Linked DNA regions of Homo sapiens. The protein of the gene in region 3 interacts with the protein of the main gene of each other region in a pairwise test. Each region holds a gene or a part of one and is shown on either strand. Other genes may lie near its edges.

Region 1 (3,751 bases), on a different chromosome or scaffold from region 3:
CTGGGCACAGTGGCTCATGCCTGTAATCCCAGTCCTTTGGGAGGCCAAGGCAGGCGATCACCTGAGGTCGGGAGTTTGAGACCAGCCTGACCAACATGGAGAAACCCCATCTCTACTAAAAATACAAAATTAGCCGGGCATGGTGGCACATGCCTGTAATCCCAGCTACTTGGGAGGCTGAGGCAGGAGAACTGCTTGAACCAGGGAGGCGGAGGTTGCAGTGAGCTGAGATGGCACCATTGCACTCCAGCCTGGGCAACAACAGCAAAACTCCGTCTCAAAAAAAAAAAAAAAGATTCCAACTATTTTCTGAGATCCTCACTTTGGGTGGTATCTATTTAAATAAAGCTTTACCTGAGATCTTGTTTCCTTGCCTTTTAACTTCTAGCCAGTTAAAAGTAACAAAAGAATACCCCTGTGGCCTTATAATAGCAACTGTTGCAAAATCAGAGGCAACAGTGAATGGGGGATAAAATACAGGATTTACCTAGAAACACGTCCACTTCCATCACTTAATAGATACAAGATTCTTAGGCAATGACTGGGTGTGGTGGCTCACGCATGTAATCCTAGCACTTTGGGAGGCCGAGGCAGGTATATCACTTGAGGCCAGGAGTTCGAGACCAGCCAGGCCAACATGGTGAAACCTTGTCTCTACTAAAACTACAAAAATTAGTGGACGAGGTGGTGAACATCTGTAGTCCCAGCTACTCGGGAGGCTGAGGCAGGAGAATCGCTTGAACACACGAGGCGGAGGTTGCAGTGAGCTGAGATCGCGCCACTGCACTCCAGCCTGGGCAACAGACTAAGACTCTGTCTCAAAAAAAAAAAAAAAAAAAAGGATTCTTAAGCAGGTCCTTCCCTTTACTTTTCTGAACCTCAGTTTCCTCATCGGCAAAATGAGGATGACATCACCAGGCACCTGGCAAAGTCTACATAAAGATTAAATGAAATAATATGCCTGGTAAAGTGCTTCTTAATCATATGCTTGTAAATAGTTATTACTGCTTTAAGCACTTCCCAAAGGACACAAAGATGCCTTTTTTCTTCTGGAAGGGTCAACGAAGCCCAGGTAGAAAATGAGACCATGACCCCAGCTATCTACAAGGGGTTGACCTCAAAGAGTTTCCCAGGACTACTTGTAGAAGTACCTCCCTTGCTCTGAGCAGAATGGAGAAGTAAAACCGGGGTTGGGGGTTGGCATTGCAGTAGGACTACCCATATGAGCTGGCACTCTACACACCTACACCTTACCTGTCCCAAAGTCATCTCCTCCTGGAAGTCTTGCCCTCCTACCCTGGACGCCTCATAATAGCTGGTTGAGCACTTACTATGTGCCAAGCTACTTGACATACCCAGTCTCACTGATTTCCACAGTAGTCTATTACCTCATTTCACAGATAAGGAAAAGAAGACTCAGAGAAATTAACTTGCCCAGGGCCACACAGTTACTAAGTGGAAATGCCACGTCTCTAACTCGCTCAGACTTCAAACTGCCCTCTTGGTCTCCCATCTAGGGTGCCCTAAGAATTCTCCCTCTCCCCATTTAGGGCACTTTCACATACACTTCTCATTATCTTTACCACTCTGAGCAGCAATGTTAGGACCCCATTGAATAAACAGGTCAGCTAAGGCCAGGGAGGTGAAAAGACTTGCCCAAGGTCACACAGCAAGCCCAGCACAGCGCCGAGGTTCGGACCCCAGGCTCTCGCTTCCCCGCCCTCCTCCCAAACTGGGGCCCTGACCACCGCCTCAGGGCCCCCAGGTGGGCTGCGACCCAAGGTGGCCGTGTCTGGGGGTCGGGCCGCGACCCTGCCAGGGGAAGGAGGGGCAAGGCCGTCCGGACTACCAAAGGATGCCTAGGAGGCAGGGCAGAGGATGCTCCGGCTCGCGGGACAGCAAAGCCAGGCAGAGGCGCGGGCGCAGGTCGCAGGGAAAACCCCAGGCGGCCACAGGATTAGCCCTGCTCGGTGGGCGCCCGGCCCCTCCGACTCACCTGAGGCCCGAGCCGAAAGCGGGCGGCGGCGGCGGCGGCGGCGGCGGCGGCGGCGGCGGGGGCGGCGAACCCCTGGCTCAGCCATTCCCCGCTGCCCCGGATGGGGAGAGACAGTGGCCGCTCACTTCCTTAGCAACCTGGCTCGGCGACCCACTTCCTTAGCAACCGGTGTCAATTTCAATAACTTTATTGGCACACGAGCAGAGGACAGGGAAAGCCGGCTGGAGGGGTCTGGGCGGGGCTCAGGTCGGTGCTGGTGTTTAGCGGGGGCCCAACACACCTCGGTCTCCTCACCCACCTAAGCGGGGAGAGTGGCGCACAACGTGGCCTGACTCCATCCTCTGGTATCTCGTGCCTCAGTTTCCCATCTGTAAATGGAACACACGCGATTTCAGCCGCCGTTCAACCTTTCTAAAAGCTTTCACATCCATTATCTGACTGGTGTCTCAAACTGCTACTGAGGTAACTCCCATTTAGGGTGCCCCCAGTGACTCAATACGAACACCTATAGGCACCCTTGTTGTAGCTTTCCTGTCCTTCACCCAATCCAGTCAGTCACAACCGCCCCAGGCAAGGCCAGGCCACGCTCATCTCTAGCCTGCCTGAAATATCTGGTCTGTTTCCATTCTTTTGTCCAGCTCTGTCCGAACAATCCATTTTCCATAAGGTGGCCAGAGTAATTATTTAAAACAGATCATGCGGCCAGGTGCGGTGGCTCCCGCTGTAATCCCAGCACTTTGGGAGGCTGAGGCAGGTGAATCACCTGAGGTCAGGAGTTCGAGACCAGCTTGGCCAACATGGCGAAACCCCGTCTCTAATAAAAATACAAAAAATTAGCCGGGCGTGGTGGCGCATGCCTGTAGTCCCAGCTACTCGGGAGGCTGAGGCAGGAGAATCGCTTGAACCCGGGAGGCAGGGGTTGCAGTGAGAGAGATGGCACCACTGCACTCCAGCCTGGGCGACAACAGCGAAACTCCGTCTCAGATATAAAGATTAAAATAAATAAATAAATAAATAAATAAATAAAACAGATCATGCCACTTTCTGATTAATACTCGATTTAATGGAGTCTCATTGCTCTTAGAATCAAATATGAAGTCCTTATTACTTCCTGCAAAATTCGTTAAAACTCTATTCCAACCACACTGGCCTAGAAGGGCAGGTTCCAACCCCCATGGAACTTACACCTGCTGTTCCCCACTAAATAGAAACTGCATAAGAGCAGTCTTTTATTTGTTCACTCTTGTATCCACCATGCCTGGAACCAAGCTTAGTCAATAGTAGTTGCTGAACAAATATGTTTTGCTCCTTGAATAAATGAATACCTGAGATGGTCTTCTTCATCTGCCTACAACTACTTTTTGCCTGTTGTGGCAGATATTGCTACTTCCTCTCAAAAACGTTATTTCTTCCTGCTCCTGGACACACAACTAGACAGTATTTCCCAGCCTTCCTTACAGTTCAGACCAAGTTCTGGCCAATTAAATGTGATGTGTGCTATTCTCAGGCCTGGCCCATTAAAACTCCCACATAATTTGATTTACACTTTCTCTACAGTGAAGAAGTTTATTTTTAAATAAAATAATAAAGGAAATACCAAAAGAGACTGCACCCAGCCTCTTTTGGTATTTCCTGAAGCTAATAATTGCCTCATTTTTTCCCCCCTTTCATTAGCTTTCTTTGCAGATATTGTTAATTTTTTCCTATGTGGTTAATAAATTAGACAAAATAATCAGCAGTGATTTTTCCAGATGT
Region 2 (3,751 bases), on a different chromosome or scaffold from region 3:
ACTTGTACAATTTAAATCGGTGATTGTATGGTATGGTGTGTAAATTATATCTCAGTAAAGCTTGTATGTGTGTATATATAAAATATTGAATGGTGATAGGTACTATGGAGAAATATAAAGTGGGGAGGGAAAAAAAGAAGAGTTTGGGCTGAAGGTTGAAATTTTAAATAAGGAAATCATGTTAGGGTTCACTGGGGTTATGTGAACAAAGACTTTCTGGAGGAGGTGAGTGGTCAGGTGGTTTTTTAGGGAAAGAGCTGTCTAGGCTGCCTGGGTTTGGACCTGGGCTCTGCCATTGTTTATATGTATGACCTTGGAAAAGTTATTTAATGGTCCTGTGCCTCAATTACTTTATCTGTAAAATAATAATAAATAGTATCTATTTCAAAAGGTTATTGTGTGGATTAAATGAATTAAAAAACGAAAGCATGTAGAACAGTACACTGGCACTATGTAAAATGCTTTATCTTTATTTCTATCAGTTCCTACTGCAAGCTCACAGCCCTTGCATGCTAAGATGGAAGCACGACGGGAATGTTGGATGAAGCAAGGAGGCCAGGTGGGGCTGGTGCAGAAGAAGCAAGAGGGAGGATTGTAGGGCTTGTGGCTTTAGCTTTGTAAGATGGGAAATCAATGGAGGGTTTTGAGCAGAGAAAAGAGAAGATCTGATTCATGTTTTAGCACCAGCACTCTGGCTCCTGTCCAGCACACTGAAAAGGGACAAGGACACACAATCAAGGAAACCAGTTCTGAGCGATTGTAGTAATGCACGTGAGAGACGATGGTGGTGGTAGAAGTGGCCAAATTCTGGTTCCACTACAAAGATAGATACAACAGGCTGTATTTAAAGATAGAATATTGTGTATGAAAGAGACTGCAATTTTGACCTGAGCAGTTGTCGGAATTAAGCTCCCACATATTGAGATGAAGAAAGTCTGAGAGGGATGAGAGAGAGCCCTTTTAAATTTTTTGATGGGGGTGGAGTGGGTAGTGGGGCGATTGATGGGGGATCAAGATTTCAATTCTGGACATGATTAACTTGAAATGCCCATTACACATTCAAGTGGACTAGAAAGAGGATGGACGGATCACTGGTTCTTTGACCAACACGTATAAAAATCCCACTCTGTGCCAGGCTCTGTGTGGGCTCTGGAGATAGATGTGAGAATACTAACAATCTCCTTAAGAGAGCTCACTTTCTAATGGTAAGACAGGTCATGAGGAAGTTAGCAATCAAGCGAGGTCAGGTAGGTAAGGTCTTCAATTCTTCGGATGAGACAAAATGTACAATTGCTATTACTGATTTTAATATTCCGGGTATTGCAAGGGCCAGAAGACGGGCCTAAGAGCAGCTCCTCCTCCCAACCCCGGGCTGCCAGGTTACCTCCGCCTCAGTGCGTGCCACATTTCTAGCGCAGCAGAATGGCAGCATTGCGCACGCGCGGCCTCAGTCTGGCGTCCTAGGAGATGGACTCGGAAAGCCTCCGCGCAGGCGTAATTCAAGGGCCGAGAGAGCCTGAGACTGGGCTTGGGGCGGGGCGAGCTCGGAATGCGGCTGCGCACTGGGCGCTCTCGCCCGAGAAGCCGCAGTCTCGAGAGCGTCAACGAGGTGTTTCGGTAGTCTCTGGCCATCCTTTCTGCGCACCCGGTGTCGCTGGGCTGCACCCCGGGCGGGGACGTCCGCCGGGCACGGGAGGGGGCCAAGATGCCGGTGAGGAGAGTCGCTTCGCTTCTGGGGTTTCTTCTCATCCTAGCGGCCTGGCCCGGGGGCGCGGCCGTTGCCATGGAGGCGCGGAGCCGGCAGGCGGCCTGGGTGGGGCGGGGCAGGCTCGGTCGTGCGGTGGAGGTGGTTGGAGAGCCTGGCTGGTCAGCCCCGGGGCCGCGGGGGTCCGGCCGGCCTCGACAGGGACCTGGGGTCAGGCCCTGCCGCCCTCGTCGCTGCTGCATCCCGTGGGGCCTGCGCCGCTTATCAAAAAGGCGCTGTGCTGGAGGATGCGCTCTGGCTCGCAGCCCTTCCTGCTGAGCGGGGCGTCTGGGGGTGGCCACGGTGGGGCTCTTTGGATGCTGCACACCTGGTGAGGCCTTTGCGCCTCGGAGCAAGCGCAGGGAGGCAGCGGAGCGAAGGCTGCCTGCCCCTATTCCAGGCCCCATACTCCGAGTCTCCTAGCCTTGAGCTGTCATTGCTCTTGTGGCGCTTTAGCTTATGATGCAGAATGAAACCCGTAGGTGTCTTTGTGTGTGTGGCGGTGTTATGTTTATCTTCCAGGATTTCACAGATTGTTATCGTGAACTTAATAATGGGGCCTTCTAAGACCCCTTATTAGGGGTCATGGAGGAAAATTGAGCCATGGCCGCTTATTTAGTGGTTGTGAGGCCTCGGATAATTATTTAATCTGTCTGGGTCCTTAGTTCCCATGTAAACTTTACCTCATGGGGTTGTTATCCGCGTGAAATAATACACAGGAGACTAGAAGGACAGTGCTTGACATTTAAGATTAAATGCTCTATATTTGTTCTGTTCACTGCTTTCAAGTTTTAATTCAGTAAATATTGGGCACCAACCACATGCTAGGCCCTGAAGATACAACATTGAGCAACACCAGTCAGGTTCTTGAACTTGGAAAGAGAGAGGCTTGCCTTCTTGGGCAGAGGTGAAAATCATACATATTTACAGACGTAAGACACAAAACCTTAATAATGAAGTGGGTGGGTATCCTACAATAGAGAGAAGTAGATTCTGGTGAATTGGAATGTATTGCCATGTAAGAATGATGGTCTGCAGATGATAACAGGTCATTTTTTTTCCTCCCAAGAAGAGACTTTAGAAATTATTTTTGTGAAATTTCTCAATTTTAGCAACTAATTCAAAAGCTCTTTAAATACTATGAACCAAACAAAAGAAATTTGTGGGCTGAATTCAGCCTCTTGACTACCTGTTTGCAACCTCTGGTGTAGACAGAAAGACATTAATCAAATAAGGAACAAGCAAAAGTAAAATTTGTGTCCAGGAAGGGGAGAGCAGGGTGCTCTCTGAGCCTATAAGAGTATTTGACCTAGTCAGGAAGTCTTCCCAGGTGAAGTGGCTGTTGAGTTCTGAAGGATAAGTAGATGTTAACTAAGTGAAGAGGGGATTGAAGATGGTTCTAGGTAGAAGGAACAGCACATGGAAAGGCCAGTGGTGAGGAGCATGGTGACAAGAAAAGGCCAAGCAGCTCAGTGTGGCTGTGGCATGGATGAGCCAGGCAGAATATCTTGTGAAATAAGCCCAGTGAAGCAGACGTGGGTGGAAGCCAGACCTTACAGACCACCTTAAGGATTCTGGTTTTTGTTCTGAGATCTATGGGAAACCACTGAAGAATTTTTAAGTAGGAGAGTGACATGATTAGATGTGTGTTGACACTGACTGCTATTTGGAGAATAGGCAGTAGGGCAATCTGATTAGATTCAGGAGTATAGTTAGGAGGCAGTAATCCAGGGCCAAGATGATGGTGATTTAGACTAGGGTGATGAATAGATGAGAGGAATAGGATGAGAGATAGATAGAAGTGTATTGTACTGATATAATCTGTTACTTGTCAGTGACAATGTCAGAGTCAATGACAATGACTCATATTTGTTTCTCTTCAATGCTTAGAAGAGAATCTGAAACAGTAGGAATTTAACAAGTATCTGTTCAACTAAACTGTCCTTTTCACTTCAATAATAGGATTGTGTTTCATTATATTTTCTTAATCATAAAATTTCAGAAATG
Region 3 (3,751 bases):
TTCTGTTTTAAGGAGAAAAATGAAATAAAATTTTGCAAATAGGCCACTAAACCTATGCCTAAATTTATGACATTATAGAACAGTTCTGTATAGGCTAGTATTTAAAGAAATACTATTTTATCTGGATTATAATGGTCAAATACCTTTGGGAATTACTAGATTGAACAAAGCTACACCAGATTATTTATTAAATAGGACTTTTTGGAGGCTTTGCTGTTAATATGCATTGTCAACCTATTTATGTGACTCCAAAATAATTTTTTTCAAAGCATGTACTATTCAAGTTCTCTGCATTGTGAATGTGAATAATACTGTGAAATGCTATCATAGGATGATTTTTAATTTGCTAAAAAATTTGTCACTACGTGGATTCATAACTAATACAATCAATTTTTGTTCATAGTCTGAATAGCCAGAAAGCTCAAATATGGGACATTTTCATTACCATAATAAATACTCATAATGCAGTCCATAAAGTACTATTGTAAATCCTGAGTATCTATTAAGAACAGTGGAATTATGATTTCTATATTTTAACATACAGATATTTTAATTATTTTAAGAATTAGTATGCCATGTACCAACCTGATTTGAAACTAGTGTCATTACTTTATAATTTTCATTTCCTCAAGAGAAAATTTTAGCAGAAATGCTTATTAACCTACCTGAAAGTTAATTTTGTGAAAGCTTTTTGTTTTATTTGTGGCTACTAGCATAAATTCAGTGTGATACTGAAATATTAAATTTATTTTTCTGTGTATAGATTTTATTTGGTTTTTAATTTGCTTTAATGGAACGAGTGTTAGTCTACTAACCTGCTCATTTTTTTCTAGACTTATTCAAGTTTTTTTCATATTATCAAATACATTAAATCAGATGTTAAAAAGAAAAAAATCAGTACTGAAGTAGGAAGATTACAGTTCTTAATTTAAGGTTATTAAATTAAGAAATGAAAGGCTTTTTAATTATTTTATTGTCACCATAACATATGTCACTTTATCTAAATCATATTTGATTACTTCTGTGTATAGTATATACTTGAAGCAGCATGTTACGTATCTTTAAGTAAAATTACATTTTAGTTTTAAAAGTAGCTGTCTGTATTGGAAAGAAGCATCCTACTTTTTGTCCCAGTTCTATCTTAGCTTTATTATTCATTAATAACTAGACATTTAAAACCAATCACCCTTTATACCAGAGCAAGGAGAATGATCGTTTCGGTACCTCTCCTTTTTCTTTAGAAACTGCCCTTGGTGCATTAGCAAGGGTCCTGAGAGAAGACTGGAAGCAAAGTGTCGAGTTAGCTACAAACATAATTTACATCTTTTTTTGTTTCTCCAGGTAAGTATAAAAATTATTAAATAAAAAGGCTACTGTATCTCTATTGCTCTTTGTCTGTGTCATTGATTCAATTTGTAGATCACTTGTTCTCTCAGTTTTTCTGTGTGTCTGCCTATGCTCTACTGCTGAATTCTTATTCCTGTTTTCCATTGTCTGTCTTGCTATCTGTTATTCTATCTTTCATTTAGTCTATACCCACTCATGCCTCAGTTTCCTTATGAGTAAAATTTGGATAGTAATAGTGGCACCCTCTTTGGATAGTTTTTTGGATTAAATGAATTAAAAATTAAAATACTTAGAATAAAGCCTGACCCAGAGTAAGTGCTCAGTAAATGTTATTGTTATATATATGCATGTATGTACAAACACATACCTGTTATGTATTGTATTTATTATTTATACACATATATCCTTAAGAAAGAAGATACTTATTAAGACATTATGAAAAGTTTCTACCCAATTCCTAGATAATTGCTGCTTCTGTTCTAAAAATGTGCTAGTATTAGCAAATAAATATTTATTGAATAAATACTTGGATTAATGTATTGTCTAGAAAACATATGTAAAACCTGATTACTAGTACTTTACGAATTCTCTGATGTCAGTTTTATACAATAAATAAAATGTATGTCTAGTATTGCTACATTATTAGTTTTGTTAGACAATAATCTAAAAATCTATTCTGAATATCTGAGTAGTTAATATGGTGGTTAGTTACAAAAAATGTCTACTTTCTAACTTCTTAAAAATAACTATTTTAGGTAAGAGTAGTGTGATATATTTAAAGTAATTTTATAATCGCAAGTCTTCCTAGTGTATTGTGGATATATTCATTTATTAAAATATGTATATCAAATTTATTTTCTACATGGTTCGTACCAGTGATCACCAAAAACAAATTTCCTGTACCCATAAAATGTATTCTTTTAAATATATATTAAAATGTCTTCTTTAAAGCTTTTCTCAATTTCATGGACTTATTACTCACTATAAAATTGGAGCTCTGTGTATGAATATTATTGATCATGAGTTAAAAAGACATGAGCTTTGGCAAGAAGAACTCTCAAAGAAGAAGAAAGCTGATATCCTTTTAGAGTGGCATTTGAACCGTCTGTTGTCTTTTGCTTTAAGTTTTGGATGGGTGGGATGGTTTTGTTCTTTTTTCTTTTTTAAAAATTGTTAATTACATTACTTGGAAACAATGCAGGAGTGTGTTATTGAAGGTTAAGAAGTAGATTGAAACTATCAAAATGAATACAGTTTGATATTCACTTTTTGTCTCTTCACAACCTTTATTAGTTAATGAGGTAGAAGGAGCAGGTAATAGTTGTGTCGGGTAACTTAGTAGGTGAGCCTCTAAGTGGTTACATCATTACATCCACTAAGATCCTTTGGTTAGTTGAAGCCTGGCCCACCACTGCTGCTTATATACTTCTGTGTGAGTACTAAGGTGACTTTGATTAGAATGGGTGTAAATTTGGTGATGAACCTAGTTAAAGGTTCTATTTTTCTAGGAAAGTGCAAAAATACTGTTGTTAATAAATAAAAATTTGAAAGGCCTATAGAATAATAGAACCTGTGAAAGGAAACTTAGGTATCTGTTTTAACCTATCTTACAAATATAAAAATATTTCTGCAACTTCCCTGGCAAATGCTATTACATAGGCTCCTCTTTAACAATGTCAGTGTTTATTTATTTCACCCATTCTGTGGTTTAGCATTCTGTTTATTATAATAGTCTTTTGCTTAGTGCACTGAAGTCCATTCCCCAATAACTTCTATCCATTGGTTCTAGTATTGTATACTAAAGCAATATGGAATAAGGCTATTCTCTTCAACATCATAATTCTTCTCATATTTGAAGATATTTATCATATTTTAGCCTCTAAACTCAATGCTTCTAGATCAAAGGCCCCTGGTTTATTCATATCTGTTCAACCATGATATGTTTTGCAGATCAACTAGGCATGCTGGTAACTTTCCTTTGAATCAAGTGTTTATTATGTCTTTTAAAAAGTGAAAACTTTATTCCTATTTTGCAGAATATCATACATTTTTAACTCTGCTTTGTGCAAAAGTGGACCTTACTTTTATATTAATTTTGGCCTCTGGAAACCCTGAGGCTTCAATTTAATCTATGTTGTAACAGGTTAATTCAGGTTATTGTGTACAAAATCTCTCAGGCTTTTACTGTTGTCACATGGAACTCCAAGACACTATAAAATCCACACCCACACACAAGCTTTGACTTTTCTTAATTAGAATCTTTTCAGGTTTATAAATTTTCTATGCATACCATAAACTTCTGGCATCTAGATTGATAGTGACTCAACTACATCAACAACCCAAGAATCCTAGAGACTTTACATCAGTTCTGGAGTCACAAGACTCCTGAATGCTTCAGTGGTAC

What was found.
Region 1: the proteins of KIFAP3 (region 3) and KIF3B interact in binary tests that used the Homo sapiens proteins (3 or more experiments, as listed by UniProt).
Region 2: the proteins of KIFAP3 (region 3) and KIF3A interact in binary tests that used the Homo sapiens proteins (3 or more experiments, as listed by UniProt).

The regions. Positions count from the first base shown.
Region 1 is NC_000020.11:32,276,011-32,279,761, reverse strand, and holds the start of KIF3B (kinesin-like protein KIF3B), read right to left. Parts: upstream 2,112-3,751; 5' UTR 1,997-2,111; intron 1,645-1,996; exon of another isoform or gene 1-1,644. UniProt on the Homo sapiens protein: Microtubule-based molecular motor that transport intracellular cargos, such as vesicles, organelles and protein complexes. Uses ATP hydrolysis to generate force to bind and move along the microtubule. Plays a role in cilia formation.
Region 2 is NC_000005.10:132,735,374-132,739,124, reverse strand, and holds the start of KIF3A (kinesin-like protein KIF3A), read left to right. Parts: upstream 1-1,578; 5' UTR 1,579-1,705; coding exon 1,706-1,711; intron 1,712-3,751. UniProt on the Homo sapiens protein: Microtubule-based anterograde translocator for membranous organelles. Plus end-directed microtubule sliding activity in vitro. Plays a role in primary cilia formation. Plays a role in centriole cohesion and subdistal appendage organization and function.
Region 3 is NC_000001.11:170,033,044-170,036,794, reverse strand, and holds part of KIFAP3 (kinesin-associated protein 3), read left to right. Parts: intron 1-1,241; coding exon 1,242-1,341; intron 1,342-2,298; coding exon 2,299-2,423; intron 2,424-3,751. UniProt on the Homo sapiens protein: Involved in tethering the chromosomes to the spindle pole and in chromosome movement. Binds to the tail domain of the KIF3A/KIF3B heterodimer to form a heterotrimeric KIF3 complex and may regulate the membrane binding of this complex.